Linked DNA regions of Homo sapiens: regions 2, 3 and 4 are each linked to region 1. Evidence: fine-mapped expression QTL. A gene starts in region 1. Each other region holds a variant in brackets. All regions are shown on one strand. Distances are from middle to middle.

Region 1 (8,109 bases):
TAAATCATTCTACTATAAAGACACAGGCACACATATGTTTATTGCAGCACTATTTACAATAGCGAAGACATGGAACCCATCTAAATGCCCATTAATGATAGACTGGATAAAGAAAATGCGGGTACATAGACATTAGGAAATACTATGCAGCCATAAAAAGGAATGGGATCATGTCTTTCACAGGGACATAGATGAAGCTAGAAGCCATCATCCTCAGCAAACTAACGCAGGAACAGAAAACCACATACCACACGTTCTCACTCATAAGTGGGAGCTGAACAATGAGAACGCATGGACACAGGAAGGGGAACAACACACACCAGGGCCAATCGGGGATTGGGGTGTGACAGGAGGGAGAGCGTTAGGACAAATAGCTAATGCATGCAGGGCTTAAAACCTAGATGACGGGTTGAAAGGTGCAGCAAACCACCACGGCACATGTACACCTACGTAAGAAACCTACACGTTCTGCACTTGTATCCCAGAATGTAAAGTAAAATTTAAAAAAAGAAAAAACAGGAAGAAAAAAGGAAATTTTTGTTGCCTATTCTGACTGTATGCTAAGTGATAAAGCACAACCCTCTGAGTGGGCAGTGCAACTCCGTGGTTGAGCAGACTCTGCAGTGGAGTGCTTGGGTCTGAATGTGATTCTGCCATGTACTGGTTGTGTGACGGTCAGCAGTTATTTACCCTGTGCCTCTGTTTCCTCATCTATAAAATGGAAAAAATAATAGTACTTAACTCATTAGCTTATTGTGAAGATTAAATAAGCTAACATAGGTATCTCCAACTTAACAGCAGTAATCAATTTCTGAAAATCAGACTTCTGGATAAAAACCTGGATCCTATTTTATATTATTTTAAAGGAAGAAAAATGTGAATGTGTAACAAATCAGCCATTCCTACCCTCCAGGCAATTTCTTAAATTGCAACTAAACACAAAAAAAATTTCTATATATACGTAAACTCACATTAACATGTTAAATGCACAAAACATCACTTCTTGATCACTAAATAACACTAACATTAATGCAGGAACTTTGTGTTTAATATGCAGGAACATGTTTTCCATTGAACCACTGCAATCATTTTTTTTTAACTTTGCTTCCTTCTCTACAACTTTCTCCAGTGCATTCCCAACTTTATTTGGAACTCCTTGTTCCAATTTACATTTAGCCCTAGGCAAAAGCAAGCATTAGCTATGAAAGACAGCAAAAAAATAGGTTCCAGATCAGGACACAGTGGTAATGAAAGGATCACACTGAGCAGGATGGTGAGAGCTGCTGGGCATCAGCAGCATCCTAAAGGGCACCTCTAAAGTGCACCCCTTTTTATTTTGTCAAGAGTAAGGGTCTCACTTTGTCACCCAGGCTGGAATGCAGTAGTGCAGTCATGGCTCACTGCAGCCTCGAACTCCTGGACTCAAGTGATCCTCCCATCTCAGCCTTGGAGAAGCCAGGATTACAGGCTGGAGCCACCATACCTGCCATCTTGGCTCACTGCAATCTTTGCCCCTCCCCGCCCCTCTGGGTTCAAGCAATTCTCACCTCAGCCTCCTGAGTAGCTGAGTAGCTGGGACTACAGGTGCTCACCACCATGGCTGGCGAATTTTTGTATTTTTAGTGGAGACGGGGTTTCACCATGTCGTCCAGCCTAGTCTCTTAACTCCTGGCCTCAAGAGATCCTCCCGCCTCCGCCTCCCAAGGTGCTGGAAATACAGGCATGAGTCACCACGCCTGGTCAATACCTGCACTTTTTAAAGGTTTAAACTGGAATCTCATCTCTTACCAACTGTATTCAAAATGTCATTTTTTTTCTGCACAATTTTTTGTTGTTGGTGGTGGTGGTGGTAGATTTTGTTTGTTTGTTTTTGAGACAGAGTCTCGCTCTGTCGCCGAGGCTGGAGTGCAGAGTCGCGATCTCCGCTCACTGCAACCTCCGCCTCCAAGGTTCAAGCGATTCTCCTGCTTCAGCCTCCCGAGTAACTGGGACTACAGGCACTCGTCACTGCGTTTGGCTAATTTGTGTATTTTTAGTAGAGATGGGGTTTCACCATGTTGGCCAGGCTGTTCTCAAACTCCTGGACTCAAGCGATCCACTTATCTCAGCCTCCCAAAGTGCTGGGATTACAGGTGTGAGCCACCGCACCCGGCTAGACCCTCTCTCTCTTAAAAGACAAAAAAATTAAAAACCAAGTTTAAAAATGTTGTATTGAGTTTTTAGGATGTGAATATATATTTATTTCCTACATAAACATCTACTGGAATATGTCAAAATGAGGATTCTTGTTTTTGTTTTTGACTTATGGGTATCACAATCTATGAACCTCCTTAAGAGGGGAAAGGGAAAACGCTAAGTTTGGGGAAAGCCTTTAGAACAAGTCTAGCCAGTAAAGGTTTGCTGCATTATCCATCTGAGTCATTAACTTTGTCAATAGTTATATTCTGTCACTCATTCATTGATTCATTCATCCCTTCCAAAAATATTTTTGGAAAATTCACTTCAGGCCAACTTCTGTTGCTAACCTTGAGGGGACATGGTAAATGAAATACGTTCCCCTCCTGCGAGAAGCCAACATTTTAGGGGGGAAAATGAAGGCCGACTGTGGTAGGTGCTTCGATGGAACTAGGAGCTGGTGACAGAGGCTAACTTCAGAGAAAAGCTAGCCCCGGGTGGGAGGCAGGATCCTCGCGCGGATAGCAAGGTATTCGCACCCTCGGTCTGCACTGCGCAGTCGGGCGCCAGAAACCCTCCAGGCCCCAGCCGGGTCCGAGGGAGAAGGGTGCGGTTGGATTCAACACCCGCCCCAGGGAAAGAAGGTGAGTCTATTCGGTTTGCAAGAAAGGTCTCGCGTGTTATCTTGGGCGGGGGGATGATACGATCGTATTCTAATTATCGGCCCCCAGTGGATCTGTCCCGCGTCCTAGCTGCTGCGGCGTTCAGTGGGCACGTAAGAGACACCTGAGGAGGACACTAAACCAACATTAAGGCAGCAGACAAGGGAAGCCGCCGAGGCTAGGAAATCAAAGTGGACCGCGCTGGGCTGGGGACGGGCTGGGGACGCACTGGGGCGGAGGACCAGGGCACAGGCGAGCTAGCGGAGGAGTCGGCTGAGGCCATTCAGCCGCTGATTTTCGTCCTGGAACGGACTTCGCGTAAACACACCGAGCCATTCAGAGCTCTCTCCAAGTCACATTCTGAGGCTCCGGCCCCGGAACTCTGGGCTAGACGACCCCGCCCCGGAACCTTGTGTTACCGGCACTAAATGCAGAAGTTCCTCTGGTTGCCACCGGACGCAACTGTCAGGTGACGCTTCCGGCGCAGAAAAATGGCAGCCGCCGCTCCGGACTCACGTGTGAGTGAGGAAGAAAACCTGAAAAAGACCCCAAAGAAGAAGATGAAAATGGTAACTGGAGCCGTAGCGTCGGTGCTGGAAGACGAGGCCACAGACACTTCTGATAGTGAAGGTAATGTGGTAGGGCTGAGCTTTGGTGTCTGGGAGGAAAGGCGGGGCTGAGTTCGTGTCAAGCAGCGCTTGCGACTTCATTTGCTGCTAGCCACCTGGGTTTTATCTTGGCACCACTTCAGAGGGGCGACTTTGGCTTAGTGAGGAGGCTTGGGGAAGTCGTGTTCAGAGAAGTAACGCTGTCAACTGTAATTTTGAGTTTCCACATTCTTTTACTAGGTATTTTCAGGGTCACCATTATTAATTATAATAAAATGGGTGAAACACCTGCAGCTACCGAGAAACTTACAGTAGCAAAGGGTGAAAGGAAGAGGGTACTTGAAAACAGGAGAAGAATGGGTCTCATAGGGTGTAAGAAGCAAAAGGTTAAAAGAGGTAAGAGGAAGAAGGGGGTGTACTTGACTTTTTGTGCGGTAGATGTGTGCGTGTTTTAGAGACTAAATAATAGTGAATGAAAGAAGAGTTTGGTGGTTAAGGTCGATTAAAAACTGGTAGTGTTTGATAACTATGTCTCTCAGAGACGCTTGATAATAAAAGGAAGGAAGGATGTGTTTTTGAGGCTTTCAACCATGCTGTGTCTGTTGCTCCTCTTTACCATCATTCTTGGCACCAGCTTATTAGGTTACAAGGAATTGCAGGTAATCCCTGACTTCCTACTGCCCAGTTATTGCTCCTTTGTACCAGCTGATACCCAAAAAACAGACAGAGCTATTCTTTTATAACGTATTTCTAATTATGCCCGCTGTCTGTTTGAGATGATCCAGTGGCTTCTCATCTCAGTATATAATATCCAAAATCCTTAGGCTGTATGATTTGGGCCAGGTTGTCTGTCATAGGCCAATATGCCCCTCACAAACCACTAACTGTAATCATGCCATACCGGTATGCTTGTGTTTAACACCTTAAACATGCTCCCACACCATGGTTTCTTCATTTGTTGGCTCCGCTGCCTAGAATAGTTTTCAAATGCTTGGCATGTCTCTCCCTCACCAGCCTCTGATCCAGTGCCTTACCAGAGAGACTTGTCCCTGACTACCCTATGTAACGTACCACCACTACTCTTCTTCCTGCCTTCTTTTCTTCACTTTTTGACTTATTGCCCTGCTTTATTTTTTCTCAACCCTGCCCAAACCATTTGATGTATGTATTTGCTGCTTTCCCAATTGGAATATAAGTTCCATAAAAATAGAGCCTACTGTATCCCCAGTTCCTATTGCCTTGTGGGTCCTTCACAGATATTTAAGTAAATGAATGAATTAACCTGGACTTCCAGGACCAAGAAGAAAGTGTCATATGCTACTGCAATTCCTAGGTAATTAGAGTCTTCATCTCCTGCCACATTGTTAAGGAAAACAAACTATTTGTTGGGCCAAAATTAGAACTTCTGGTTCTGATATTTTTTAAATTCATTAGACTAGTTCAAACACTATTGTTCAAGAAGGGAAGAGTACTATATTTGCTATATTTGGAGCAAAATGTCAGTACTGCTTACAAATTGGATTTTTCTTTTTCTTTTTGAGACAGGGTCTTGCTTTGCCACCCAGGCTAGAGTGCAGTGGCACAAACAGGGCTCACTGCAACCTTGACCTCCTCCCCCACCGCCCCCCAAAGCGATCCTCTTGCTTCAGCTTCCCCAGGTAGCTAGGACTACAGGCGCATACCACTGTACCTGGCTAATTTTTTTTTTCTTTTTTTTTTTTTTTTTTGGTAGAGATGGGATTTTGCCATGTTGCCCAGGCATGTCTCGAACTCCTAGGTTCAAGTGATCCACCCGTCTCGGCCTCCCAAAGTGCTGAGATTACAGGTGTGAGCCAGCACACCTGGCCAAATTGGATTTTTCTATTCAAATACTGGATAATTCCAAGTTGGAACTGTTCTGACTTTTCAGCGTATTATTATAAATGCTGATTAGGTTTTAAGGTTCTCTTGCTGTTATAGATCAGCCACATTACGGGTTAAAAAGGTTTTTGGCCAATATGGAAACCTAATTTATCTAATTCAATTCAATGAACACTTGTTGTGTTCCCTTAGGTTCCAGTCACCCTCTAGGTGTTGAGGATACAAAGGATGAATATATTTCTGCATTAAAATTTCAGTTTTAGGAAAGATATTAAACACAGGACTGTAATATAGTGTATTAGTATAATTAAAAGGTAGTTTTCAAGATCATGGTTCAATTTTGGAAAGGTAAGGATGGAGACAGAGAAATTCATATCCTCTGGAACCCAGCCTAGGCGTTGCTTACTTATATCTTACGTGTATTATTGATAATATACTATGTTATTATATTTTAACATATCTCTCTCCTTATAGAGATAAGTTCCCCAAATGTCAAAAGTATGTCTTGTTTATTTTCACAGGGTCTTCTTTGCATACTTTAGTATTCAGTAAATTGTTTTGTTGAATAAATGTATAAGGTGGCATTCTATCTAGGCTTTAGAAGGATGAATAGTTTTCCTGACCTGGGAGTATAGAGGGCAGTTTTCTCAGACATAAAAGCATATACAGTGGCATGCGGTCTCTTAAAATTCATGGCCTATTTCAGACAAAGTAATCTTCTGTTATGGCTCCAGCTGTTCAGAGAAGTGACTAGAAGTAAAACTGGAAACAATGGTTAAAAGTAGATTATAAAGGGCCTTGTGTATTTGTAGGCAGCAGGGAGCTATTGAGAACTTTTAAGCAAGATGGTGACAGTTGTTTATAAATATTACTGCCAGATGTACGGTGACTGCCAAAGAGTGCCAGGACAGTTTGTAGGCAATTGCAAAATTCTATGTTAGGATCTGCACTAGGACACAGCAGTGAAGACAGAGAAGGGCCCCACTTGAAATATTTTTCAAAAAGAAAGTATTCAATTTTGCAAACAGGCAACTTTCATGTGAGCTTATAGCACCATAGGTTTTGGGCATACTACACTGTTAGAGGAATTGGATAATAACAATAGTTATACTTTTGGAACTTTCCTATGTGCCTGGTTCTGTTCTGAGTTCCTTCTATATATCAGCTCAGAGAATTCTGACAACTCTATGAGATAGATGCTGCTATTATCCTCCTGTTACATTTAAAAAACTGAGGCACAGAGGCTTATAACTTGCCCACTTCTGTACATAAGCAGATAAGCAAGTTGATAAATGATACAACAATTATTGAAGTTTGATTGTAGAGCTTATGCTCTTGACCACTACCTTAATATGTTTGAGGAATCAGGAGGACATAGATAATTTTAAAAAGTATCTGGAAAGTGAAAGCGTTGGGCCTTTGAATCTAAGGAAAGAAAGGATTGGGGACAAGGAGACTTTGGTATGGAGACAAACTTTTCTCCCTCCCACTCAAGAAGATTTCATCACCAAGGGACATTTTTGTGTTCAGATTTCTATAGCACTTCCAATGTTTATAACCAGAGTATTCTTTCCTTCCTTCCTTTCTCCTAAAATCCATATGTTATTTCTGGAAGCAAATTCCCCTGTTCACTCAATTGTATAAGAGGCACCTGTGATGGTACTACCTTTCAGAGTGACTTTGTGCTAGTTATTATTATCTACCCCAATTTCCTCATCTACAAAATGAGGATAATAATAATGTCTACTTTAGGATTGTTGTAACAATTAAATGAGTTTATATATGGTAAGCATTTAATATTTGGCACATGGTACCCACTCATAAATATTAGTGATGACGATGATGTCTCTTCTGACCTAAAAAAACTGCTAGTCCCATCTCTTTTTGCCAAATAAGTTTTCCCACCTTTGGTAATGTGGTATTTGTAAGCTGGAGCTCTCCCCAGAAAAGAGGTTTGAATTATTCTAGTAACCCTGTAAGGTAGCTGATGGCATTTCTATTTTACAGATAAGAAAAGAAGCTTGGAAATAGTGCTTCCAGTATATCATATTGCTTCCTAGTAGAAAACTGTTACCTCCATAGGTGCAAGATGTTATCTGTTATTCCACTCGTTTTATTCCATAATCTAACCATTAGATCATATATTTTTGGTAAAATTCAAGATCAGTGATAACGATGTTGATAACAATTGATTGTGTCTGCTTGGTTATGCCATAGACACATTTTCTTTGCCAAAGCTGCTTCTGTCTCTAAGAAAGACACTGCCATCTACTCCCATCCAAGCTGGAAACACAAGTGTCATCCTTTAGTCTTCCTGTTGCTTCCATATCTATTTGGTTTAATTAATCCATTTATTCTGTTGCCACTACTTTAGTTCTTGCCCGCATCTCTCTCTCTCTCTTTTTTGAGATGGAGTTTTGCTCTTGTTGCCCAGGCTGGAGTGCAATGGTATGATCTCAGGTCACCCCAACCTCCACCTCCAGGGTTCAAGTGATTCTTCTGCCTCAGCCTCCCAAGTAGCTGGGATTACAGGCATGCACCACCACACCCAGCTAATTTTGTATTTTTAGTAGAGACAGAGTTTCTCCATGTTGGTCAGGCTGGTCTTGAACTCCTGACCTCAGGTGATCCACCCACCTTGGCCTCCCAAAGTGCTGGGATTACAGGCATGAGCCACTGTGCCTGGCCTTGCCTGCATCTCTTTTGTTTACATTAGTTCATAGGGTACCTATCTGTTGGGCCTGTCATTGCAGCCTTACTCCCTTCAGTCTTCTAGGCAATTGCTTCTTTAACCATCAATGTTG
Region 2 (8,109 bases), 37 kb after region 1:
AAATGTGGCTGTGAGAACCTGTGTAAACTGGCTCATGTGTCCTTTTGGCATGACCTCATTTTCTTTGAGTGATTCCTTGCATTCTGGGACAGGATGTCCAGCCCAAACCTTGTGCTTTCTGTGTCCCAGACCTAGAATCACCTGTTTCTCCAAAGGGGTCTGATGGGACCAATCTATTTATTTCTAAATTGTTTGTTGAGTTCAGTAGATTTATAGTGTGCATATTCCTTACTAGATGCAGCTTTGTTTTGTTTATATAGCATTTCATAGTTTTGCAAAGCACTTTTACATATGTTTTCTTATGTAAGCTTTTTAGCAAATTTGTGATATCAGGAAGACGTTGGTATCTATTTTTCAGCTGAATTCACAGCTCTGCTAATTTTTTATAAATCTGGATTTTCATTTATATGCTATATAATATAGCAGATAAAATGTGCTTTAAGAGACTAATTGGCAGAGTGTATCTGAATATTTCAAACAACTAATTTACTATGAAAATGAATAGAGCACTGTCAAAAGGCTCCCTGAAGTGTTACATTTGACTTTTCAGGTACCTTAGGTTTTTTTTTTTTTTTACTATGTTTTATTTCTTTTTTTTTCTTTTATTTTATTATTATTATACTTTAAGTTTTAGGGTACATGTGCACAATGTGCAGGTTCGTTACATATGTATACATGTGCCACGCTGGTGTGCTGCACCCATTAACTCATCATTTAGCGTTAGATATATCTCCTAAAGCTATCCCTCCCCCTTCCCCCCACCCCACAACAGTCCCCAGAGTGTGATGTTCCCCTTCCTGTGTCCATGCGTTCTCACTGTTCAATTCCCACCTATGAGTGAGAACATGCGGTGTTTAGTTTTTTGTTCTTGCGATAGTTTACTGAGAATGATGATTTCCAGTTTCATCCATGTCCCTACAAAGGACATGAACTCATCATTTTTTATGGCTGCATAGTATTCCATGGTGTATATGTGCCACATTTTCTTGATCCAGTCTATCATTGTTGGACATTTGGCTTGGTCACCTTAGTTAACTTTAACTTACTTAGAGTTCTTAAGATAATTTAAATGTTGAGGAAAATCAATGTTGAATTAAGAACTAAATGTATGGATAACAAGATGTATAATAATAGAAACCACCAAATAGAACCGCTTTGAACAAGGACATATGTAGTGGGTACATATGTCCACATTTTGCCATAAACGTTTATTATAAAATCAAGTTGTTTTCCACCCCATTCTGCACACTCTTCATAGCTCCTATCTCAGGGGCCGTAAATGAAATTAAAACAAAACAAAAAAAAAATCAGTGGGCGAAAAAAATTGAATCCATAAAGTATGTTTTTAACTACAATTGCAAATAGCTTACTGAAAATTTTTAACAACAAAGATATTAAGATGAATTTAGTCAATGTTAAGAACTTTTTAAAATTTAGGTGAAACTGAGTTAAAATGAAAACTGAACTTTCTTGTTAGGGAAAGCAATGAAATCAACTATTGTTGATTACTAAATATAGATGAGACTATATTGTTTCTTTCTTTATGGTTTGATTTTAATTATCCCCCACCCCAGCAAATGAAATGAAGTTAACCATCTCATTGGTGTGAGATGAATGTGTAATTCCAAACCTTCTTTTTCAGTGTTCAGTGGCTGCCAATGTATGTTTGCGCTTTGAAATGAAAGCTGATTAACATTTTTAAGGGTTGTCTTCACCTTCAAAATGGACACAGACTGCTTCTGTATGGTTTCAATTCAATATTTGTATAAAACTAGGCCAAGGAAGGTGGGGACTGTTTGTTTCCTTGCATCATGCAGTTTTCGTTAAGTTCTTGCATTTAGTCACTTTTACTTTTCATTTGATATAAGCAGAAAGAGTTGTATAGGTTGCTTTAAGTCTTTGAATCAGTGCTGCCTTGCAGCAACACTGAAAGACTCCGTAAGTTGATAAAAGTTTGGTTATTTCAGTTTATACTTTACGATTTATATTACAGTTAGTTATGTTTAACAGCTAACACAGCTTCCATCTATGATAGTAAATACCTATGTCTAACATGTACAGTATGGTTAACTTTATCTTATAGCTATAACCAGTTAATAAAAAATAATAAATTTTTTATTTCTTTCAAGGCCTGTACCTCTAAAACTTTCTAATTTGCAGTACTGGAGTCAATGGCTTATCTAAGATTCAAATCCAGAACTCTCTTTTTATTCCTTTTATAAAAAGAATATACCAAATTGCTACTTCTCTTTTACAAACAAAACAAAAAACCCTTCATTCTCAGGATGTCTTAACATTTAATGAAATCTATTCAGGGATCACCCCAAGCAAGCTTTTCCGATGAATGACACATTTAGAATTTGCCTCAGGCTTTTTTTTTTCTTTTTTCTTATATTAATCTTTGATCTACCTTTTTTTTGTGTGGGTGCTCCAAGTATTTAAGAAGTTTTTATACTTAATGGTAAATCATATTTATGGAAAAGATATAGCAAATTGAAATTATGTCAATCCAGTGTGTAATGTAATTTACTCCAAATCTTTTATGGAAATTACCTTAAGCATATTCAGCATTTTGCATGTATTTTAGTCCTCATTCATAGGTTATAACAGGTTATATAAGAACACAGTATATTACTGTATTGTGTTCATATCATCAGTTAAGTTTTAGAGAAGTTTAGTGTTGTGGAAAGAACATGGGCTTTGGAATCAAATGGATCTGTGTTTGGGTATAGACTCAGCTCTTTATTAACTCTGAACTTGAATAATTACTTCACTTCTCTGAGCCTTAGTTTTCTTATAAGGTAAGCATGATACTTGCTATCTGGCCAGGAATCTTAAGAGAATTAGAAATAAGGCAATATTATATAAAGTGCTTGGCACACAATGAGTTCATAGTATACTTATTGTGTTTGACCCTTTTTCATTTATTGTTAGGAAGTAAAACAGAATCATCATTGTTAATAAAACTAGAAGGATTTCTTAGGATATTTTTGGGACGATCTTGGTAGAAAAAAGCTTGGGAAACTTAGGATTTGTGGAAATGGTTTAGGTGTACTTTTTTTTTTTTCTGTTTCTTGCTGTCCCTTTTTTTTTAAATTCTTTACTTATACATGTAGTTTAAAAAGCCACATTTTGCCATAAACGTTTATTATAAAATAAAGTTGTTTTCCACCCCATTCTGCCTACTCTTCATAGCTCCTATCTCAGGGGCAACTAATTCTTAATTCTCTAGCTAGTCCTGCTGGCATTTATACATCTCTGTATTC[T/C]TAATGTTACAGGATCCTTGGGTGTCGCTTCACCAGCTGGAAACCTCTGTGACCAGTGGTGCCTTTGCCTGTTTTGCTCGGTCCTATGGGCTCGTTTTGCCCACTCAGCCTGGCAGTCTGCGCTCGGCTCGTGCTACCAGCCTGGATCCCATGCCTGCCAAGAGCGAGGGATGTATGAGCGAGAGTGGGGTCCTGCCACTGAACACAGCCAGGCATGCCAGCTGCGGCAGGGTCCATAGCTCCCGGCAATGGCATGGGCGCCGGCTACTTGCGAGGCTGCAGCTGGACCAGGTGTACTGTAAGCAGCTTCCATGGCCGACACCAGGGAACGTCGTGGCGTTCTGGAAGCTTGGAGATGCCAGTAACTGCAGAGCCCTAAAGAGGTGTCACAGCCCTGGCTCAGGGAGCTCCTAGGTCTGGGCTTCCCGAAGGGCTGCAGCTCTTCTCTCCTTCTTCTTTCCTTGTCACCTGCAACGTGGTGAGCAAGGGACATATTTCAGCGCTGTTTGTGTTACACCTCTTTTAGCCCCGCCGTTCGGCAGGTCCCGAGTTCTTGTGCTGCATCCAGGAAGAATGAGGTACACAGACAAGTGGAGGATGAGCAAGATGAAGAGGAGCTTTATTGAGCGATAGAACAGAGGAGACCCTGGGGTGGATAGCTCCTCGCTGCAGCTGGTGGTCTTGTTGTCTCTGGGTCTGGCTGAGTTCGGGGCTTTTTATGGGCCTTAGAGGAGAGGAACTGAGTACCAATTGGTCCATGGGCTACCGTGGATGGGCCCAGAAAAAGCACTACAAGTTCCCACTCTGGTCCCCAGGACTGGCAGCCCGGTCCCCAGGCTTCGGGCCCTCCCTGGCCTGAAGGTGGGGCCTCACCGGGGACCCTCCCCCTTCTACCCAGAAGCCTGTCTGCTTCCTGCCACTGCTCATGGCGCCCAGACTGTTCTGGCCAAGGAGTGCCTGCAGGTCAATGCTGAGCTGCCCTTAGCCCCACCTCGGCCTCCCTCTCATGCTTGTTGGCACCCAAAGTCCGGAGGGGGCCAAGGGGGCAGGGGCCTGGCATGTCAGCGCTGCCCCCAGTGTGCGTATACCCAGCTGGGCTGTAACAGTGCCCGGGTTCCGCTCCAACCTTGCTCTGAGATCAGAGCGGGCACTGGGAGCGGGGAGAAACCGGGCAGTGGGAGAAGATACTTCCGAGCCTGCAGGGGCAGGGGGCGCCTTCCTGGCCCCCTCCACTCCAGAGTGCAGCCATACCTAGGTCTGCAGCCGGGACTTGGGTTGCTGCAGCTATTCCTGCGAGGGCGGGGCTTCTGCCTGCTCCCAACTCCCACCAGCTCTGTGGAGCCTGGCACCGTCCCAGGCCCAAGTCCTCCTCTTGGCCCCTCTCAGCCTGCCCCTCCGTGCCTGACTGTGCTGCTCCTTTGCTGGCGGGTGACTTAGTCTGGCCCCATCGCTGTGATTCCCAGGAGCGGGCCTGGGAACTGGTGCCTACTCCATGTTTTCCCTGCAGCAGCAGCTGCAGGGGAGGTGCAGGTGGCATGGCCCCTGCCAACCCCGCACAAATGAACCCGACGCTCTGGGGGCTGGCCCCTTGAGTCTTGCCTGCACCTTCGGCCGGGTACTCGCGGGTTCCCAAGACGCGGCCGGCAGTGAGGTTGAGGCCATGGCAGAGGCTCCGGGCCTGGGAGTGGGTCCTGCCTGCCTGTGTGAGCGTGGGTGTGACACAATTATCTGCCTCAGGGACGCGGGGCACAAGGGTTCCAGCGCCGCCACTGCTGCTTCCGCTCCTGCTACCACCGCCTGCACCTCCCTGCTGCAACTGGTGTGATGGCAGCAGCCACTCCGGATGGTCGGCCACTGCCATCACTAACTCATGTGCATATGTGTAGTCGTATCTTTTGATTAATCAGTTTGAGGCATTATCTATTAGTTTTCTGTTTTAGTAGGCAAAGATTTAATTATCTTACACAGTCTCTTCTCCTTTGGCCACTCAATGTAGTTTACAATTATAGTTGTCAGTATTCAGCATTTCTTATTCGTGTGAAAAAATTATTTACAGCTGAATGTTGTAATATTCCATATTTATATGTTTCCTTTCTATTTTTCCTGAAGTTAATCATTGTCTTGACTTTTCATATTTAATTTCCTTTATTAATTTAGTTTTTTGAAGTCAAATGATCTGAAGTGATGTATCTATTTTAATTATTTTCTCTGAGATATTCTTTCCTAGAGGCCTCTATTTTCCTTTGTATCCCCTGATTGCTTTCTTGGGTTGCTTCACTCTTGTCATCTGGGACTTAAATTTTCTTTGATCCTTGGAATTTCTTCTGGATTGAATTCCCTATGTCTGGGTTCTTGGATCTTCCTTTTTTTCTTGGTTCACTCTCACTCTTTTGGTAAAGCATATTCTCCAGCGGTTTTGTCAAGTTAAAATAACATACAGTGACAGATGTCATGGTGATGACCGCTTTCAGCATGCCGTCCCACGGAGTCACTTGGCTGCAGGTTGTCCTTCATGCGTGATGTGTAGTTGTTATTTTGGAATCTCCATTCATTCTCATCCTGGCTGTTTCCTTCTTTTTCCTTTGGTGGGACTCCTATTTTCTCTATCCCATGTTTTCTTCTTTTTGTTTTACTCCATCTGTTTATGGAGAACATCCTCAGTGTCCTGAGAAAGGCTGCATTGGAAGTAAACTTTTGGGGACCTCGTATGTCTGAAAATACCTCTGTTCAGTATTCACATTTCAATAATAATGTGTCTCAATATTGAATTTTAGGTTGGATATTATTTTCCTTTGACATTTTGAAAGTATTTGTCTATTGCTTCCTTGCTTTCCAATATTGCTACTGGAAAATCTGAATCTTTCGATTTCTGATTATTGGTATGCATGTGACTTTTGTTTTCCTGGAAGCTTATGGGATATTCTTTTAGTTCCTGTTGTCCTGAAGTTTTACAATAATATTCTCATTGTGTCCTGGACACTCGAGGGCTGGTTTTAATCTGGAAATGTGTGTCCTTCACTGGGAAATTTTGTTAAAGTATTTTATTAATTTCCTCCTGTACATTTTTTCTCTGTCTGTAGAACTCCTATTATTTGCATACTGGGCCTCTTGGACTGGTTCTCCAGTTATCTTTTTCTTCCATTTTTCATCTCTTTTCTTTTAGTCTATTTTCTGGGCAATTTCCTCAGCGTTATCTTCTGACTTTTATAATGTGGTTTTTTGTTTTGTTTCTTCCACCATATTTTTAATTTTAAGCTCTTTGTTATTCTCCTAATGTTTCTTTTAAAATAGCAACTGTTGGCCGAGTGTGGTGGTTCAGGCCTGTAATCTTAGCACTTTGGGAGGCCAAGGTGGGTGGATCACGTGAAGTCAGTAGTTTGAGACCAGTTTGGCCAACATGGTGAAACCCCATCTTTACTAAAAATACAAAAAATTAGCTGGGCGTGGTGGCAGGTGCCTGTAATCCCAGCTACTCGGGAGGCTGAGGCAGGATAATCGGTTGAACCCAAGAGGTGGAGGTTGCAGTGAGCCAAGAATGCACCATTGCACTCCAGCCTAGGCAACAAGAGTGAAACTTCATCTCAAAAATAATAAATAAACAAGGTGAAATCAAATAACAACTGTTCTGATTTTATGGATGCAATATATTTTAACTCTTTGAGGATGTTGATGATATTTTTCCCTAAATTTTTTTCTCTTGAGATTTTTGTTCCTACAAGTCGTTTTTTAAATTTTGTGTTTGCATTGTTCTCTTCTTTCTGATAATCCTTAGTTGTGTGTTCATGATTAGAACAAATAGACCAAAAAATTCAACTGGAAGCTATGAATATATGGGTGTCATCCACCTTAAATTTCACTGTAGGGTTCTCTGGGTGAATTTATTAGCAACTTGTCAGGTTTTCAATAAAGTAACTCTTCCAGTCTCCTACTTAGAAGAAAAAGGTCTGCGTACCAGCATTTTGGGAGCCCAGTGTGAGAAGAGAGCTGGGATTCAATATCTGGTTGCTGTGTGTGTGTGTAACTTAATCCCATTTTTGGTTCTATACCTATGCTTTCATCTGTGCAAGCCCATTACCTCTTCAGAATTTAAACCTCCAGGTATTATGCCAGGTTATTGTGGAATGGGATGGGGAAGTAGAGCACTAAATGTTTCTCAAAGCATACCTTTCACCCCAGTGCTTTTTATTTTGGTTCTTCCACTTCAACCCTTAACTTCCAGAAGTCCCTGATACATACTGCCAGTTTCTGTTTCTTTTGCAGATTCTGCAGTGTAAATAGGGTTGGTTTTGTCAGTGTGATAGTTGCAGTCTTAGGATTTAACTTTCCTGGTGTCTTCTGGTCCATCTCCTTCACCTTCAAAATTGTGTTGATATTGTCTTTTCTGATCTTGACCTTCTGAGTTATGTCTTTAAAACAACAAATCACTTTTCTGTAGTTTTATTGAATATAGCAGTTGAGCAAGACTAGTTGTTTATGTTCAAACTGCCACTTTAGCATGGGCCCTCTGCCTTTTTTCTTTCTACGTGTGTCTTTAGCAAATGTAGGGATTAGAATTTAAAGAGTCATTCTGCTGCCTTTAAAACAAGGTTTTCTTTATTTTTTTGAGACAGAGTCTTACTCCGTCGCTCAGGCTGGAGTGCAGTGGTGTGATCTCGGCTCACTGCAACCTCCTCCTCCTAAGTGATTCTCCCTCCTTAGCTTCCCCAGTAGCTGGGATTATAAGCCTGTGCTATCATGCGTAGGCTATTTTTTGTATTTTTAATAGAAGCGGGGTTTCACCATGTTGGCCAGGCTGGTCTGAAACTCCTGACCTCAAGTGATCTGCCCGCCTCAGCCTCCCAAA
Region 3 (8,109 bases), 57 kb after region 1:
ATTCTGTAACTTGCTACTGGATAATTCATTATAGGTCTTGCCTGAGCATGTCTGATAATTAAAACTTTATATTTGAATTATCTGGATGCTGCAGAAATGGAACTACTCTACTGAAGTGGTATCCAATAATTTACTATATACAGCTATTGGTTTTTTATTCCTAAGATACAATATATTGGCTATTTGCTGCTCTGTTACTTAATGACATTAGATGACTCATAAATGTAAGTGGTTGACATTTTTGCTATTAAGAATTTAGATATTCAAATTATGCTTTATAAATGAGGATTAGATTTTTATCATGTTATTGCCTAGGAGATAACAGGTAACTAAAACTTGATAATTAAGGATATCCCATTGCTGTTGATCTAGCATCTTTTCTAAAAATGCATGTTTTACAATATTTATGTGAAACTAATTTTTATTTGATGTGCAGTAACAACAAATCAATGCAAAATTATACATTAATGAATTTAACAGTATGAAGTTTTAAGACATACCACAGCTTTCCTCTAGGTGGCATGATTTCAGCTATCATTGAGTCAACTGATAAAAATCCTTTTTCCCTACAAGCACACGAGTATGTAGTTTCTGAACAATCAGTATAAGTGTGACATTGATTAGATTTAATTGTTACAACTGGTTAAATAACCAGATTGACCTTATAATAGTCTATTGTTTAATGATCTTAAGTAACTTAAAATTGTAAGACAAAGTCCTCTTAAAGAAACAGATACAAAAAACTTGTTACCTCCAATAACCCAGCAGGCAAAATTATTTGTCTCTTCAGGTCACAATGACACACCCATTTCTGGATTTATTTCTTTGGCATATATTTATTTCTTATGGTAGATAGTGCTATTTGCTTGGAACAGTAATGATACTGCCTTTTTACTTAAAAGGACTCATATAGATGTAACAAATCTAAAGAGAAACCACAAATGGTAGGATTCTTGATCACAAAAATTTTCACGTTAACAGGAAACAGCCCCTTCAATTATGTGAAAGTAACTTTCCTGGTGTCCCTGGTTTTATGAAGCAGTTACTGTGTGCTAAACAAGAAGGATCAACATGTGAAAAGTCATTATTATGTGACCTGCAAGCATCAAACAACAAACAGAAACACTGTTCTTTTTTTTTCTGTACTGGCACTAAAATGGGAAGGGGGGCCAAACTCGTTTTTACCTTTGGGATTCTTTTTCTGTTGTTGATTTTCAAAAATTTAAAAATGAATTTCTCTGGCTATACAAAGAATACATAAAATGCTTGTTAATCCCATTATTGTTGTATTTATCTTCTCCTACCTTTCTCTGTGGGAGACTGCTTTCATGGAGCTCAAAAGAACTTGACCAAGCACCTCTCGGGGGTTCATTTTTGTGGCAGTGCAGGTTTATATTAATGCTAAAATTGTGCAAGTAGCATTTTCAAAATGTATCTCTGATGGTGATTTTTAGAATATGCTGCATAGGCAAAGGAAAAAAAAGGTCTTGGAAGTATGCAAAATATAATATCACCACTGTAACCGAAAAAAGGTGAAAGACTAACAGATGTATTCTTACAGATTTAAAGTGGCTTCATTTTAAATAAGGTAATTATCTGGGAGAGTCCTGATTTACCCCTGTTGTCTTAGTGTATCAATGAGTGGCATCCTCTTTACTGCAAAAAATGTTTGGATTTGTGTGACAAATGATGTAGCTACCCTAGTTATGAGAACTTTATTTTCTACTAAGATTTCAAATAATCATCAGTGAGAGTTTGTGGTCTGTAGTCTCCCGTTTTATAAATTATAACCATCTATATAGCTGTGCTTTTCAAAATACTTACATACTTAGGCTTTTAAAAATACTTATTTACTAATTTTTCCCTCTATCATAAACTACACTGAGGTTTTCTTTTTTTATGCAATTACTATTGACCCTTGGTTTTTATTTATTTATTTTTTTTTTAATTGCAGGCTAATCGAGGCAGCAGAACGGCATATTTGTTTGAAATGTAGGTTGGTAATTTTGGCAGTGGAAATTTAGACATTTGGAATTTTACCCAATCTATGAAGCCCACTGAGATGATGACAGACACATAAATTCATTTAAAGACCATGTATCTTTAAAAAAAAAAAAAAAACTTTTGTTATATTATACTCATTTTAATTATGAGAACACAGTCATATTTTTCTCTATCACTCACCTTCTCTTTTTCTTTCTCATCTTTTGTGTTTATTTTTAGTTGGCCAAAACACTCTCTCCATTTCTCCCCAGCAACCTCATTCTGGTTTCTTGCTTTGTGAAGTCTATCTGTGAACTTCTGTGGTGACAGAGTAAATGAAGGAGGAGTAGAGATTCTGTAAAGGTGAGTGTCAAGTACTGCCCTAAAAAATAAGGAAAATTCTGCTGCTGGTTTCTTTTTGTCAACATTAGGATTTTGTTAAGCACTTATCCATAGCGTTATGCTGTGTCCCAACTATTACCATATGTTCATTTATTTATATCAGTTACTAAATGCTATCTTAGTGGGTGAATTTCACCAGGGGCAAGAAACCAGAGGCTGCAGCTACAGGGATGACATAGCACAGGCCACTGTGAGACTGCCTCCCAAAGAAAGACTTTCCTGGAGAGCTAAAATTGTAGAGTTATGAGTGGCCCAAAAGCCACAAGCAGTAATCAATCAACTAATCATAATTCCAAAGGGTGAGATAATGTTCCCACAGTGTATCATTAGTGTGATGAGTTTATCTCTTTAAAGCCTCACAACCTGCTGATATGCTGTGGTTTTTCTTGGTCCTATCTCTTTATCTTTTACCACCTCTGATCTCTTTAAACCCACCCTGTTTCCATTTTCCTCCCCGCCCATTGTTTCCTCATTTTTCCTTAACACTTCTTCCTTAGATTAACCTTTAAATACAAATGGAAATAATAATCGGATTATTTTTTGTAAGGAAACCACCTTTCTGTTTCATTATTCATAACTAGAATAATGAAATAAAGCTGTTTATAGAAATGCATCTAGAACATGAGACAAAATTGATATAGACCAAACATTGTTCTTGAATAGTGGTATCAAATATAAAATTATAAATAAAATCTTAAAAGACTTTTGGTGTATTTTCATATTAAAGGGTTATTTTGCATTTATCAAGTATCACTATTTGGGGGGAAATGTAATCAATTACCGTCGTTCCATGTATTTCTTTTTTTCACCTCCTGATTTTTCATGCTTGAAACCGTTCTGGAAAGCTTCCAGAATTGTTACAAATGAAGTTATGCTTTGGTCAATGTTAGTAAGGACCTATGATCCATAGGCGTAAAACTCCAGGACAGGGATGAGTAGTTTTGTTTTCTTCAGCCTCTTGTAGAAATCCCACATTACTTAAGTGAATAGACCCATTGATGAGTGGAGAATGGCTAAGAGTGGAAACAGCTCCACTCTCTACCTCTGTAATTTCAAAACAAAAGATTCCATTTGAGGGCTTTAATAAGAGACTTTAATCGTGAATGCTTAACTGAACTTTGATAGTCATTTAGCATTTTATTCACCAAAAGTGTATTTTCTTGTCCTTCCCTCCTATAATTACTGGGGGCAAAATACCATAATATTTAAAATGTGCCTACAGAAACTACTAGGAGGCAGAACTAGAAGCAAATTCTTCTTGGGTTCTTTCCTGGCTTTTCAGAGAGAGCGAGAGAGAGAGAGAGAGAAGGCCAGATATTTTTATTATAAATTCCTTGACAGAAATAAAGACATGATAGGATAAGAAACTCACAGAGTCAGTGAGTAACTTGTTCAGGATCACAAAGCCAGAAAGTGACAGAAATCTGAACCCAAAAAACCATGACTGGAGCCTGCCCTTTAAACCACTGTGCTCTCCTGCCTCCTTGAAGTAATCAAGATGGGTGTATATCATTTAAATACCCTTTTACCATGAAGACTGTAGAGACCCCGGCACATAAGACCTCCATTAAATATAGAGATGAAAAGGCATTATAAGAGCCATTTAATAGAAGAAATGATTCATTTACGGTTACCAGGGAGACAGCTCTAGCAATCTTGCC[G/T]GTTAGGTCTTCAAAGAACTGATCATTTGAGAGGTGGAAAGGGGCTCCTCCTCTCCTGCTATACTCACTTACTGCACTTACCCATTCCAGAAGCTTTTACCAATACCTCCCGTCTTACCCTCCTGGGCTTTGGGGAAATTAAAGTAGCCTCTTATGAGTAAGTCAGGGGTCTCAGGTCTAAGGAGTTGTTAAGTGAGCAATAGGTACTCAGTAAACTAAGTATTATGAACAAAAGTGTGTATGTCTATGTCAGGAAGAGGGGTGGCCATCAGAATTTATGGCTTGCGCTGTTTTCCTAGAAGTGATGTAAATGAACTTTTGCTACTCTATCCACACTCTAATCTGAATCTACTTAAGGTGCATCAGTGTCTGTACCAAGAAGGTTGTCTATAAACATGAAAGATGCTCACTGGCTTGTGGAAGCTGAACCTGTATCCTCAGCAAAATACAGTGATAGCTAATTCAGGTAACCAGCCATATTCCACAGCAGCATCTTCTCTCAGTAGCTCTGGTTTGGAGCTCCTGCTCTGTGTCTATAATGGCCACAGGTGTAAGAATATTCACTTTTTGTCCAATCTGTAGAGCTAGCCTACTGCAGTTCTCAAACTGAACTCAGAGGGAGGACCTAACTGGATGAAACTACTAGTCTGACAGTAGCGCCTCTTGATTATCTTTTTCTTGGGCTACTGGGATGGTAGCTTTGCTTCAACTCAAAACTGGTATCAAGGAAAGGAACCTGCTGGTGCTGATTTATACATAATTTTTAGAATTATTCAGAAGTGGGTTGGAACAATTATTTTATTCCAGAGTTTTTCAATGTGTGATAATGGAAAAAATTCTGTATTCAAGGGAGTTTGGAAAATGCTGGGTTAAAAGAGTGAAAAGGTTTTCTCTTCTACAGGAGTTTCAGAGCCTTTAACATGATAATGTTCCAGAATGAGGAATCTAAGAGGACAGGAGAGTACCCAGTATCTCCCAAACTTGTTTGACTCCAGAATTCCTGTTTGTCAGAACATATTCTGGGACCATTGTTTCTCAGAAGTACATAGTAGGTAAGAACATAGTGGATCCTGACTGCAAAAATCCAGCTCTACCACTTACTGTGGTCTCGAACAAAGTACTTAACTTCTTTGTACCTCAGTCTCCTCATCTGCCAGATATGGATAATAAGACCCACTTTATAGGTTCATAGTGAAGATTAAATGACCATACACAACACACATCAAATTACTAAGTGTAGTATATGTTAGCTATTATTATTTTATTTATTCAGTGCTCTACTAATAACCTAGGCCCCATACACAACTGAAGTATAAATTCCAAAAGTGATAGAAAGTTCTTTGTGACTTTTCTGAACTCAGGAACATCTGAAGTAGAGAACAGTATAGAGATCTTGGGTTTGGGAGTACATTCAACAGAGTTTCCAGTTTAAATCATCTGTCTGGTCAGTATGGCTGCAGAGTCATGCCGAAATGAAAATGTTGACTTTGAGTAACTAAAGGTAAAATAAAAGAAAAAGGGAAGGTGGAACAGTGGTAAGAGTTATTCTTGTATTCATCTAATTTAGACTTAGTTGAAATTGAAAATGTCAAGTTATGAGTAGTGTAGAACAGTAGACATCAAACACTTAAAATTCCAGCTTCCTGGATTAATGCTATGGAAAGAATGAAGTTGGTTGATAATGTTTAGCCTAGCAAGAAGGTGAAGAAGAAAGCCATACAAGAAGTGGCTTAGGCAGCAAATTATAAAGGTGACCATTCATTCAAATCAGTAAAACAAACAAGTATACCTTATTCTTTAGGTAAAATTGATGGATCTCTGTTTTCCAGCAGTTCACAAACAGAGGGGTACATTGTAAACAACAAACTAACAAAATAAATTCTGGGATGGCAACCTGCTAAGGTATCCCAGAAAATAAGAGGTAGGACATGAATTTAAAAGATTGGAAGGTATGTCTTCAGTACTGGCCTGGCCCTGAGTAGACTAGTGCTCCCTCCCATAGGGGTGCGTGTGCACACATAATACAGGAGGGAAGCCTTCCCTTCTAGAGCAAGTGATTCAGCTTGGGAGGCTGTGACTGAGCTACACTAAGTAAAAACGGGAGACTTGATTGTCCTTCCTTCAACAGACCTGTCCAAAATGACTGGAAAGTAAATACCGTAAATCACTGTTGTCAGGGCGCACATTCCACCTCCTTCCTCCCTTACCCACAGCGGTCCTCATTTCCACACTCCCTCAACGGTTCGGGGAGAGCTCGTGGTCTAAGTAACGAGAGGACTTCTGACTGTAATCCTAGCACGTCACTTTGTTGAAGGCAGACACGTGGTTCAGAGAGAACTTATAAATCTCCCCTCCCCGGCAAGATCGTGATGTTATCTGCTGGCAGCAGAAGGTTCGCTCCGAGCGGAGCTCCAGAAGCTCCTGACAAGAGAAAGACAGATTGAGATAGAGATAGAAAGAGAAAGAGAGAAAGAGACAGCAGAGCGAGAGCGCAAGTGAAAGAGGCAGGGGAGGGGGATGGAGAATATTAGCCTGACGGTCTAGGGAGTCATCCAGGAACAAACTGAGGGGCTGCCCGGCTGCAGACAGGAGGAGACAGAGAGGATCTATTTTAGGGTGGCAAGTGCCTACCTACCCTAAGCGAGCAATTCCACGTTGGGGAGAAGCCAGCAGAGGTTGGGAAAGGGTGGGAGTCCAAGGGAGCCCCTGCGCAACCCCCTCAGGAATAAAACTCCCCAGCCAGGGTGTCGCAAGGGCTGCCGTTGTGATCCGCAGGGGGTGAACGCAACCGCGACGGCTGATCGTCTGTGGCTGGGTTGGCGTTTGGAGCAAGAGAAGGAGGAGCAGGAGAAGGAGGGAGCTGGAGGCTGGAAGCGTTTGCAAGCGGCGGCGGCAGCAACGTGGAGTAACCAAGCGGGTCAGCGCGCGCCCGCCAGGGTGTAGGCCACGGAGCGCAGCTCCCAGAGCAGGATCCGCGCCGCCTCAGCAGCCTCTGCGGCCCCTGCGGCACCCGACCGAGTACCGAGCGCCCTGCGAAGCGCACCCTCCTCCCCGCGGTGCGCTGGGCTCGCCCCCAGCGCGCGCACACGCACACACACACACACACACACACACGCACGCACACACGTGTGCGCTTCTCTGCTCCGGAGCTGCTGCTGCTCCTGCTCTCAGCGCCGCAGTGGAAGGCAGGACCGAACCGCTCCTTCTTTAAATATATAAATTTCAGCCCAGGTCAGCCTCGGCGGCCCCCCTCACCGCGCTCCCGGCGCCCCTCCCGTCAGTTCGCCAGCTGCCAGCCCCGGGACCTTTTCATCTCTTCCCTTTTGGCCGGAGGAGCCGAGTTCAGATCCGCCACTCCGCACCCGAGACTGACACACTGAACTCCACTTCCTCCTCTTAAATTTATTTCTACTTAATAGCCACTCGTCTCTTTTTTTCCCCATCTCATTGCTCCAAGAATTTTTTTCTTCTTACTCGCCAAAGTCAGGGTTCCCTCTGCCCGTCCCGTATTAATATTTCCACTTTTGGAACTACTGGCCTTTTCTTTTTAAAGGAATTCAAGCAGGATACGTTTTTCTGTTGGGCATTGACTAGATTGTTTGCAAAAGTTTCGCATCAAAAACAACAACAACAAAAAACCAAACAACTCTCCTTGATCTATACTTTGAGAATTGTTGATTTCTTTTTTTTATTCTGACTTTTAAAAACAACTTTTTTTTCCACTTTTTTAAAAAATGCACTACTGTGTGCTGAGCGCTTTTCTGATCCTGCATCTGGTCACGGTCGCGCTCAGCCTGTCTACCTGCAGCACACTCGATATGGACCAGTTCATGCGCAAGAGGATCGAGGCGATCCGCGGGCAGATCCTGAGCAAGCTGAAGCTCACCAGTCCCCCAGAAGACTATCCTGAGCCCGAGGAAGTCCCCCCGGAGGTGATTTCCATCTACAACAGCACCAGGGACTTGCTCCAGGAGAAGGCGAGCCGGAGGGCGGCCGCCTGCGAGCGCGAGAGGAGCGACGAAGAGTACTACGCCAAGGAGGTTTACAAAATAGACATGCCGCC
Region 4 (8,109 bases), 25 kb after region 1:
GCCTCTTTTCTAGACAGTGAAAATACATTTTTCCTATCCTCAGAGTTTGTATTCTAGGGTAATTATTTAATACATCATTCTGGTCATTTTATATTCTACAGGGGTGTGGTGCAATTATTTAATGCTGTTCAGAAACATCAAAAGAATGTTGATGAAAAGGTTAAGGAAGCTGGAAGTTCTATGAGAAAGCGTGCTAAGTTGATATCAACTGTTTCCAAGAAAGATTTCATCAGTGTTTTGAGAGGGATGGATGGAAGTACAAATGAGACTGCTTCAAGCAGGAAGAAACCAAAAGCCAAACAGGTAAAAACTTTTCTATAGGATTCAGTGTATCAGACTTTCAGCTCTAAAACTAGTCTTGAGATGGAAAACCAGACTATAGAATTACAGAGTTTTGTGTTTTTTTCCTAAATTTTATTAAAATTCCTCCATGCCCGCAACCTTTAGAGATAGGGCTTGCCTCTCTCCTATCTGAAATCCTGCCATTTTGCACATTTTGGAGAATAGAAGCCTGTGTGGGCCACAGCTTTAATTTCAGACTTTACCCATAGAGGGTGTGTAACTTACAAAATATGAAGAGTCAGAGAGTTTTAGGAAATAATGGTAGAAAGTCATTCTTGCATTGAGGCATCTTTAGTGATGTTTGGTTGAGAGATTAAGAGCATAAATACTTTCTATGACCTTTGGCATGAGAACTTTGCTTCTCCAGCTGCCTCAGTAGTTTCTTTCTTTCTTTTTTTTTTTTTTTTTTTTTTTTTTTTTGATGGAGTCTTGCTCCCTGGCCCAGGCTGGAGTGCAGTGGCGCGATCTCGGCTCACTGAAACCTCCGCCTCCCAGGTTCAAGCAATTCTCTTGCCTCAGCCTCCTGAGTAGCCAGGTTTACAGGCACATGCCATCACCTCCGGCTAATTTTTGTATTTTTAGTAGAGACGGGGTTTCACCATGTTGACCAGGCTGGTCTTGAACTTCTGACCTCAGGTGATCCACTCGCCTCGGCCTTCCAAAGTGCTGGGATTCCAGGTGTGAGCCACCGAGCCCAGCCAGTAATTTCTTTTTAATGTACCAGGTGAAAGGTTTTGAGATGTGCTTTACTTTTATAAGCGGTGGGTTTCTATTGTTGTCGTTTTAAAAAAGCAAAATATGTAGTTATATTTTGATGGCTTGATTTCTGTTGCCAAAACCAAAGGTACTTTTAATCAGTCAGGAAATGAGAATTTCTGTCATAAATTTTTTTGTTTGGGAAAATAATTGAAACCCGAGCAAGAAGAGCATTTAGGAATTTTATGCTAGCCTAGGGTTGGAGCATTTTTTAAAGTTTCTTAAGTTCATATTTTACCTAAGTGACAAAAGTTTTTGAATCTACTTGTCTCTTTCTTGAATATCAAAGGGCTCAAATTGTATTTTTATATAATAATAGTTCTCACTAGTGCTGCTATTTTAAAGTGTCTATCAGAAGTACTTGTAAATACATGAACACTGTGTTTGGGGATTTATACTTTTTAGTTCAAAGGCTTTAATAGGCTGTATTCTCGCTAGTAACATTTTACTGTAAGAGTTAGAGAAAGATTCAGCAACATTGGATGGGAAAGAACTAGTGGGAAGATGAAGAGACTTAGTTTTTTTTCTTTTTCCTATTGGTTTCAAAATAACATTTTATAGAAGCACATACTTTTGCTTTGGGATTATTTCTTTCATGAGTTATGAAAATACACAACAGATTCTTTCCACTGGCATTGTATTTTTTTCTTACCATTTGCACTTGCCCTTGACTTTCTTTTTTTCTACTTCAGTGATCACAGTATTTGTAAGTCTGGGACAAGGTCAAAAATTGCTTGAGACTTAAGCCAAAGTGATTTTGCTCTAAAAGTAATTTGTTTCTAGAACACCCTGCCCCATGCCATCAATACCCTGACATATTTCTTTCTTTTAAAAATGTGTGTTTTCATGTTGATTGCATATTTATGGAAAAACAGACTCCTTTTTAAAAATTTTGCTTGAGTTTGCATCTGAATAACTATGAAAGTACTACACTGTTTGAGATTGGATCAGTTACTGATATAAAGCATATTTCTTGGCTGGATGCGGTGGCTCATGCCTGTAATCCCAGCACTTTGGGAGGCCAAGGTGGGCGGATCACGAGGTCAGGAGTTCGAGACCAGCCTGGCCAACATGGTGAAACACTGTCTCTACTAAAAATACAAAAATTAACTGGGCATGGTGGCACCCACCTGTAATCCCAGCTAATCAGGAGGCTGAGGTGGGAGAATCTCTTGAACCCGGGAGGCAGAGGGTGCAGTGAGCCGAGATTGTGCCACTGCACTCCAGCCTGGGTGACAGAGAGAGACTCCATCTCAAAAAAAAAAAAAAAAAAAAAAAAAACATATTTATTAAGTGCCTGTTTCTACCAGGTGTTATCCTTGTTGTGTCCTTTAAAATCTTACAATTAAGATGGACAAATGACTTCAAGTAAATAAGTAAGCAAGATTAACTTGATAGTAGGCAAATTCTAAATTAGTATGTCAAGTACACGTTAACATTAGTTACACCAGCTCTAACAAGATGTACATTAAGTGGCTACCCCTGTGTGAAGGGAATTTCAGAGTAACGGTGTACTATTTATTTAGAGCATAGATCATTATATCTATGTATGTTACTTGAAATAGGTGAACTTTTAAGGTAGATCAAGGGAAGGCAGGGTGGCAAAGGTGAGCATAGATTTGATGTGCCAAAGTGCTATTCAGAAATGAATCATTGATGAGCTAAATAAAGGAAGAGATTAAGAAAGTAGAAAGTAATATTTGCCATTTTTTCTTATATTTAACCTTGTCCTAGCACCATAGCTATTGTACTCTTTCCTCATAGGTGTTCCTTCTCTCATCATAAAATGGAACAAAAGAAATCTTATTGTTTTCCCTTCCCTGGGCTGTAATGATATTCAGAGCACAGATTTTTAAATTCAATATTCCTAATATTGTGAAGTCTCTAAAATTGGAGGCCACCCACATATAAACTAGATTTCACTGGCAGCCATCTATCAGGATACCAATTTGGAAACACCTTCATTTTAATGACTTCAATTCTTTTTCCCAGTTATATGTGTTATTCAGTTTTGACATTAAAGTCTTATGTTCAATAATCAAAAGAGGCAGGAGTTTTATATTAAATATGGATAGAATTGTAATAATATAACATAGGTTATATACATTGAGCCCATTATAGTTAACCATACTTTAGGAGTGGTTTTGGTGTTTGGTTTTGTTTTCTCCTAATGTACACATGACTTGGGAATTTATTTTAAAGAA[C/CCCT]TTTTTTAAAAAATAATTGTTATAGAAATTTCATATTTCTTCAAGGTATAAGAAACAGACATTGTGATAAATGTTTTTTAACTGTGATAGGGCCCGAACAAGTCATTTTTCTTTTTCTTTCTTTCTTTTTTTTTTGAGACAAAGTCTTGCTCTGTTGCCCAGGCAGGAGTGCAGTGGAGCAATCTCAGCTCATTGCAACTTCCGCCTCCTGGGTTCAAGCGATTCTCCTGTCTCAGCCTCCCGAGTAGCTGGGATTACAGGCGTGCACCACCATGCCCAGCTAATTTTTGTATTTTTAGTAGAGACAGGGTTTCACCATGTTGATCAGGCTGGTCACGAACTCCTGACCTCAGGTGATCCGCCTGCCTCGGCCTCCCAAAGTGCTGGGATTACAGGCATGACCCACCATGCCCAGCCGAACAAGTCATTTTTCTTAGAGTCTTTTCTGCATTAGAATTTTATTATCAAAGCAATAGGAGCACAGTATGAAAACTGAATTTATGGTTAAATAAAATAACCACTGCCCTTTTCCATTCTTCTCTATACCTTGGCAACTCTTAGTACTTTCTTCTGGTATTTACCTCCATATCTTAAATAATATTTACACTATTTCTTTATCAGTACTAGATACTATCTTTCATGGAAGATAAAGTTGGTTTTCCTCACACCTCTCCACATTCTGTCCTTCCAACATAGTATATTAAAATTTCTTACACTAGATTGAATACTAGTATTCAATGTGAATATTGTTCACTGCTGAGCAAAATAATATACAATAATAATACTTACTTTCTTCAGCTTTGTTACAATTTTTATTTTTCCTGGAGTTATCACTTGCCTTTTTTTTCCTTTAGTTTTGTATATGCCAAAATCCTTCCATACTCTTCAAAAGAACTGTTAAGCCCTTCTCAGTAGTATATTTCTTGTGATCATCCTGCTGCTACTCTCTAAACTGGTTGTTCTTTACCTGCTGTGCACTGTCATTTTGCAACATTGCTTTATCCCCTTCCTGGGAATTCCATTTGCCTCTCGCCTCTCTCCTATGCAGTATCCTCTGTTTTTTCGGACTAAACGTCTTATTTTCTCTTGGCCTTCTCCTGCATTTTAGTGATGGCACAGTTTTCAGCTTTCTGGGAGAGAGTATAGGTGTCCTTATTTTTTATTGATATGTTGGCCCGATAGATGGCTTCCAATATTTGGAAAAGGGTTTTTGCAGATGCAGTTAAATTAATGATCTTGAGATGAAGGAGGTAATCTCGAATTATTCGGGTAGGCCCTAAGACCAGTGACAAGTGTTCTTAGACACATAGGAGAAATTTGACAGACAGAATCGGAGCAGGCAGTGTGACCATGGAGGAATAGGTGGGAGTGATGTGGCTGCAAGTCAAAGAATGCCAAGAAACACCAGAAGCTGGAGGAGACAGCAAGGGATGGGTTCTCCCCTGAAGCCCCAAGAGGGAGTGAGGCTTTGCCAGATATGGGCATCGGGCCTCCACAACTGTGAGAGAGTAAATTGCTATTGTTTTCAGCTACCTAGTTTGTAGCAATTTGTTATGGCAGCCACAGGAAACTAATAGAACATAGATGTCCATGTTGGAAAGTAATTTTCTCTCAGAAGTTTGAGAGAAATTTTTTCTTTCTTTCTTTTTTCTTTTTTTTTTTTTTAGCCATTGAGCGGTTCAGTGCTGCTCTGCTCGTTTTGATTCTTTTCTTTTTGGAACCTTTTAAGACCTTCTCTATCCCCGTTCTTAAAACATTTGTAGTGAATAATTGGTAGTCACTAATTTTATTTTATTTATATTTTTGTGAGATAGGGCTATGAAAAAAGATACTGTTAGTGGATGTGAGAAGACATAAAAAAAGAATGATTCTTAGCCAATAAATAGAACTTTGGGGTAAAATGTTGAATGTTAAATTCAGTGGAGATTTGGTTCTATGGAATGAATCAGATCACCACATATTTCATTTAGAAACAAGAAGAGGAACCTTCTTTGCCAAATTGTTTTAGTAGCTGTTCTGGGTGGTACATATATTGCTCACGAAATTAGAAAATCGTAAAGTTGGAAAAATTGTGATGTGGGGATAGTCATAGGAAATGTGACTCAGGAGGAAAGTACTTTAGAAGAATATAAGAAACTTAGCTTTGATTTTTAAAATGGCATGAAGTAAACATGGTAAGGGGGAAAAAGCCTGCCAGTTCTGTAATTTTTCAGATTCCTTATAGTTTTCTTTCCTGTTTTCTTCCATGGAAGTTGGAATGTAGGATGTTTGCTAATGAGTGGGGAGTTAGAAAAAGGGATTCTGAGGAAGTAGGTTGGCATTAGATTTGAAGTGTCCTATCTTGAGGAATCTGGACTTTATTCCTTACGCATTTGGAGGCCAATGCCATAAGGTAAGTGATCTGGTCAGATTTGATTTTTCTGTCTTTCTCTTTTGATTTATTTCAGCTTTTATTTTAGACTAAGGAGGTACATGTAGAGGTTTGTTACAAGAGTAATATTGTGCAGTGCTGAAGTTTGGGGAATGATTGAATCTGTTGCTCAGTTAGTGAAGATTTCATTATTTTTAAGGAAAAGAAAGGGCTGAAGGATGGTCAGAAGACCAATTAGTGGAAGACAATTGCCATAATTAAAGCAAGGGGAGAGAACGTGAACTAAGATTGTGTGGGGTAAATTGGGTTGGGGTGAAGGGAAAAGAAGAATCAGATTGGAGAGGCAATTTTAAGGTATAGATTGACTTGATTTGTGATTAACATGATGTAGAGGGATATGGGAGAGGGAGGATTTATTAATAACTCAGAGGTTTACAACTTGGGAGACTCAGAAATGGTGACAGCTTTCACCAAAATAGAGAATATAAAATATGGAACATGTCTGAGAGGTAAAGATTTTTGGAGGCAGTGACTGCTCCAGGTTATAATCAGAAATGAGAAGGATGACAGTAAAGATCAGGTTAACAGCAGCAGTGTGGCAGAAGCATTTGGTTAGTGCGGGAAATAGCATGGCCAGAAACAAGGAGGCAACCAGAATAGCAGAGTATGGTGAGGCCACCTGGGGCAGGCACTAATGAGTCCTGTATGTCTTAGTAGGGTTCCTGAATCTTTAAGAATGATTAACTTGTTTACTGAGTCAGGGAAGATGAATAGTCTATTTTAGAGAGTTTTCCACATGAATAAATGTAATATCTTCTAGGTTTAGATAACTAATTTTCAGTTATTTGGAAGGAATTCCCTAATCCAGAAGCTGTAATTCTTCGATCAAATACAGGAAGCATCATCCCAATTACATACCAACATGTGGCAAGGCATATTGACCAATATCTTGATGTTGACCCCGAGTGATTTTTATTTTATTTTATTTTATTTTATTTTATTTTATTTTATGTTTTGTTATTTTATTATTTTTAAAGAGATGGAATCTTGCTATGCTGCCCAGCCTGGTCTCGAACTCCTGGGTTCAAGTGATCCACCCACCTAGGCCTCCCAAAGTGCTGGGATTACAGGCATGAGCCACCATGCCTGGTGACCCTGAGTGATTTTTAAAAATATTACATTGTATTTAGAACACTGTTTAAGGAAGCAACAAAAACATATTTTTTAAGTAAAGTTTTATAAAAAAATTAAGCTTTAACTCTTAAAGGATTAATACCTCTGTTCCTCTATTCAAAACATGTTCTTATCTAGAGTGATTTGTTTCTCAGTATGTTAATCAAGATTTTATTAATGTAGAGGCATTAATTTTTTTTCTTAGCTTTCAAAGTTGTAATTATTCCTTTTAATGTTTTCTTGAAAAGCCAACTAAAATTCAATCAGATTTCTTGGAATGTAATTCTGTTACTCTAAAGGCCGACAGAAGCGGATGTGATGTTAAATCTGTGAGTCTCTAAGGAGAATATATTGGCTGCTCTTAGGAAAGCATTGGCTTTACTTGTACTCTTGAATTACAGACTTTCTACAAGGTTTTCATTTATTTGAAATTGCCAATATATCAATTTCAGGTTTTTTTTTAATAATGAAACTGAAATTATAATTTTATAGTAAGGGAAAATGCTAGCTGGTTTCTGTTAGAAAATGATTTTTTGGCGGGACATGGTGGCTCACATCTGTAATCTCAGCACTTTGGGAGGCCGAGGCAGGCTGATCACAAGGTCAGGAGATCGAAACCATCCTGGCCAACATGGTGAAACCCCGTCTCTACTAAAAAATACAAAAATTAGCCAGGCGTGGTGGTAGGGGCCTGTAATCCCAGCTACTTGGGAGGCTGAGGCAGGAGAATCGCTTGAACCTGGGAGATGGAGGTAGCAGTGTGCTGAGATTGCGCCACTGCACTCCAGCCTGGTGACAGAGAAAGGCTCCATCTCAAAAAAAAAAAAAAAAAAAGAAAGAAAGTGATTTCCTTAGTGATTGCTAGACAATAATTTTTAATAGAAGTCCCTAGGAAAAAGAGTTACTGGAAGAGTCCAGGTATTTATTTTTTCTGATTTTGTGGTATGAGCACTTTAAATGTCATACATAGAGGTAAGGTAGGGTACTCCTCTATTTCTCATTTATTTGTCATAAATGGCAACCTTGTAATTTCTTCATAGGTAAATAATTAGTGGTGAGAATGCTTTTGAAATACCTGGCTTCTTTGGTATCTTACAACTTAGACCCAGACTCCAAATTGCTATGTACTTTTAAAAATGTGCATTTCTTCTGGTTCTTAGATCTGCTGAATTCTTGCTTCTAAAGACAGAAGCCTAGGAAAGGAGGACTTCCTCACCCAGGTCCCTTGGTGGGCCTCTGGCTATTTTCATTATTTACTTTTGG

Direction of the effects. Positions count from the first base shown, and alleles are read on the strand shown. Sizes are in standard deviations (SD) of each study's normalised expression.
For the expression in testis of the gene that starts at base 3,305 in region 1, T is the low allele of the variant in region 2 and C is the other (large effect, 0.93 SD a copy in GTEx).
For the expression in minor salivary gland of the gene that starts at base 3,305 in region 1, T is the high allele of the variant in region 3 and G is the other (moderate effect, 0.46 SD a copy in GTEx).
In carriers of allele C in region 4, the expression in stomach of the gene that starts at base 3,305 in region 1 tends to be lower than with CCCT alone (small effect, 0.25 SD a copy in GTEx).

Evidence for each region.
Region 2: its variant is fine-mapped to the expression of RRP15 in testis (GTEx, PIP above 0.99). The same link has a PIP of 0.9 or more in caudate, fibroblasts, hippocampus, pituitary, tibial nerve and whole blood.
Region 3: its variant is fine-mapped to the expression of RRP15 in minor salivary gland (GTEx, PIP 0.93). The same link has a PIP of 0.9 or more in subcutaneous fat.
Region 4: its variant is fine-mapped to the expression of RRP15 in stomach (GTEx, PIP 0.95). The same link has a PIP of 0.9 or more in breast.

Annotation. Positions count from the first base shown.
Region 1 is chr1:218,281,989-218,290,097 of GRCh38, forward strand. It overlaps RRP15 (ribosomal RNA processing 15 homolog), which reads left to right and starts at 3,305. Exons shown (of 5, transcript NM_016052.4): 1 at 3,305-3,467. The coding sequence starts at 3,329. RefSeq lists enhancers at 2,683-2,752, 3,283-3,562.
Region 2 is chr1:218,319,458-218,327,566 of GRCh38, forward strand. The region is part of intron 4 of RRP15 (ribosomal RNA processing 15 homolog); the gene reads left to right. Among named protein-coding and RNA genes, the nearest start is that of TGFB2, 22 kb to the right of the region's middle. The variant T/C (reference allele first, on the strand shown) is at 3,267.
Region 3 is chr1:218,338,922-218,347,030 of GRCh38, forward strand. TGFB2 (transforming growth factor beta 2) reads left to right here and starts at 6,415. Exons shown (of 7, transcript NM_003238.6): 1 at 6,415-8,109. The coding sequence starts at 7,781. TGFB2-AS1 (TGFB2 antisense RNA 1) reads right to left here and starts at 6,757. Exons shown (of 3, transcript NR_046268.1): 1 at 6,682-6,757; 2 at 6,254-6,467; 3 at 5,275-5,541. RefSeq lists a silencer at 6,343-6,402 and enhancers at 6,783-6,832, 7,964-8,109. The variant G/T (reference allele first, on the strand shown) is at 4,047.
Region 4 is chr1:218,307,330-218,315,438 of GRCh38, forward strand. It overlaps RRP15 (ribosomal RNA processing 15 homolog), which reads left to right. Exons shown (of 5, transcript NM_016052.4): 4 at 102-303. Among named protein-coding and RNA genes, the nearest start is that of RRP15, 26 kb to the left of the region's middle. The variant C/CCCT (reference allele first, on the strand shown) is at 3,303.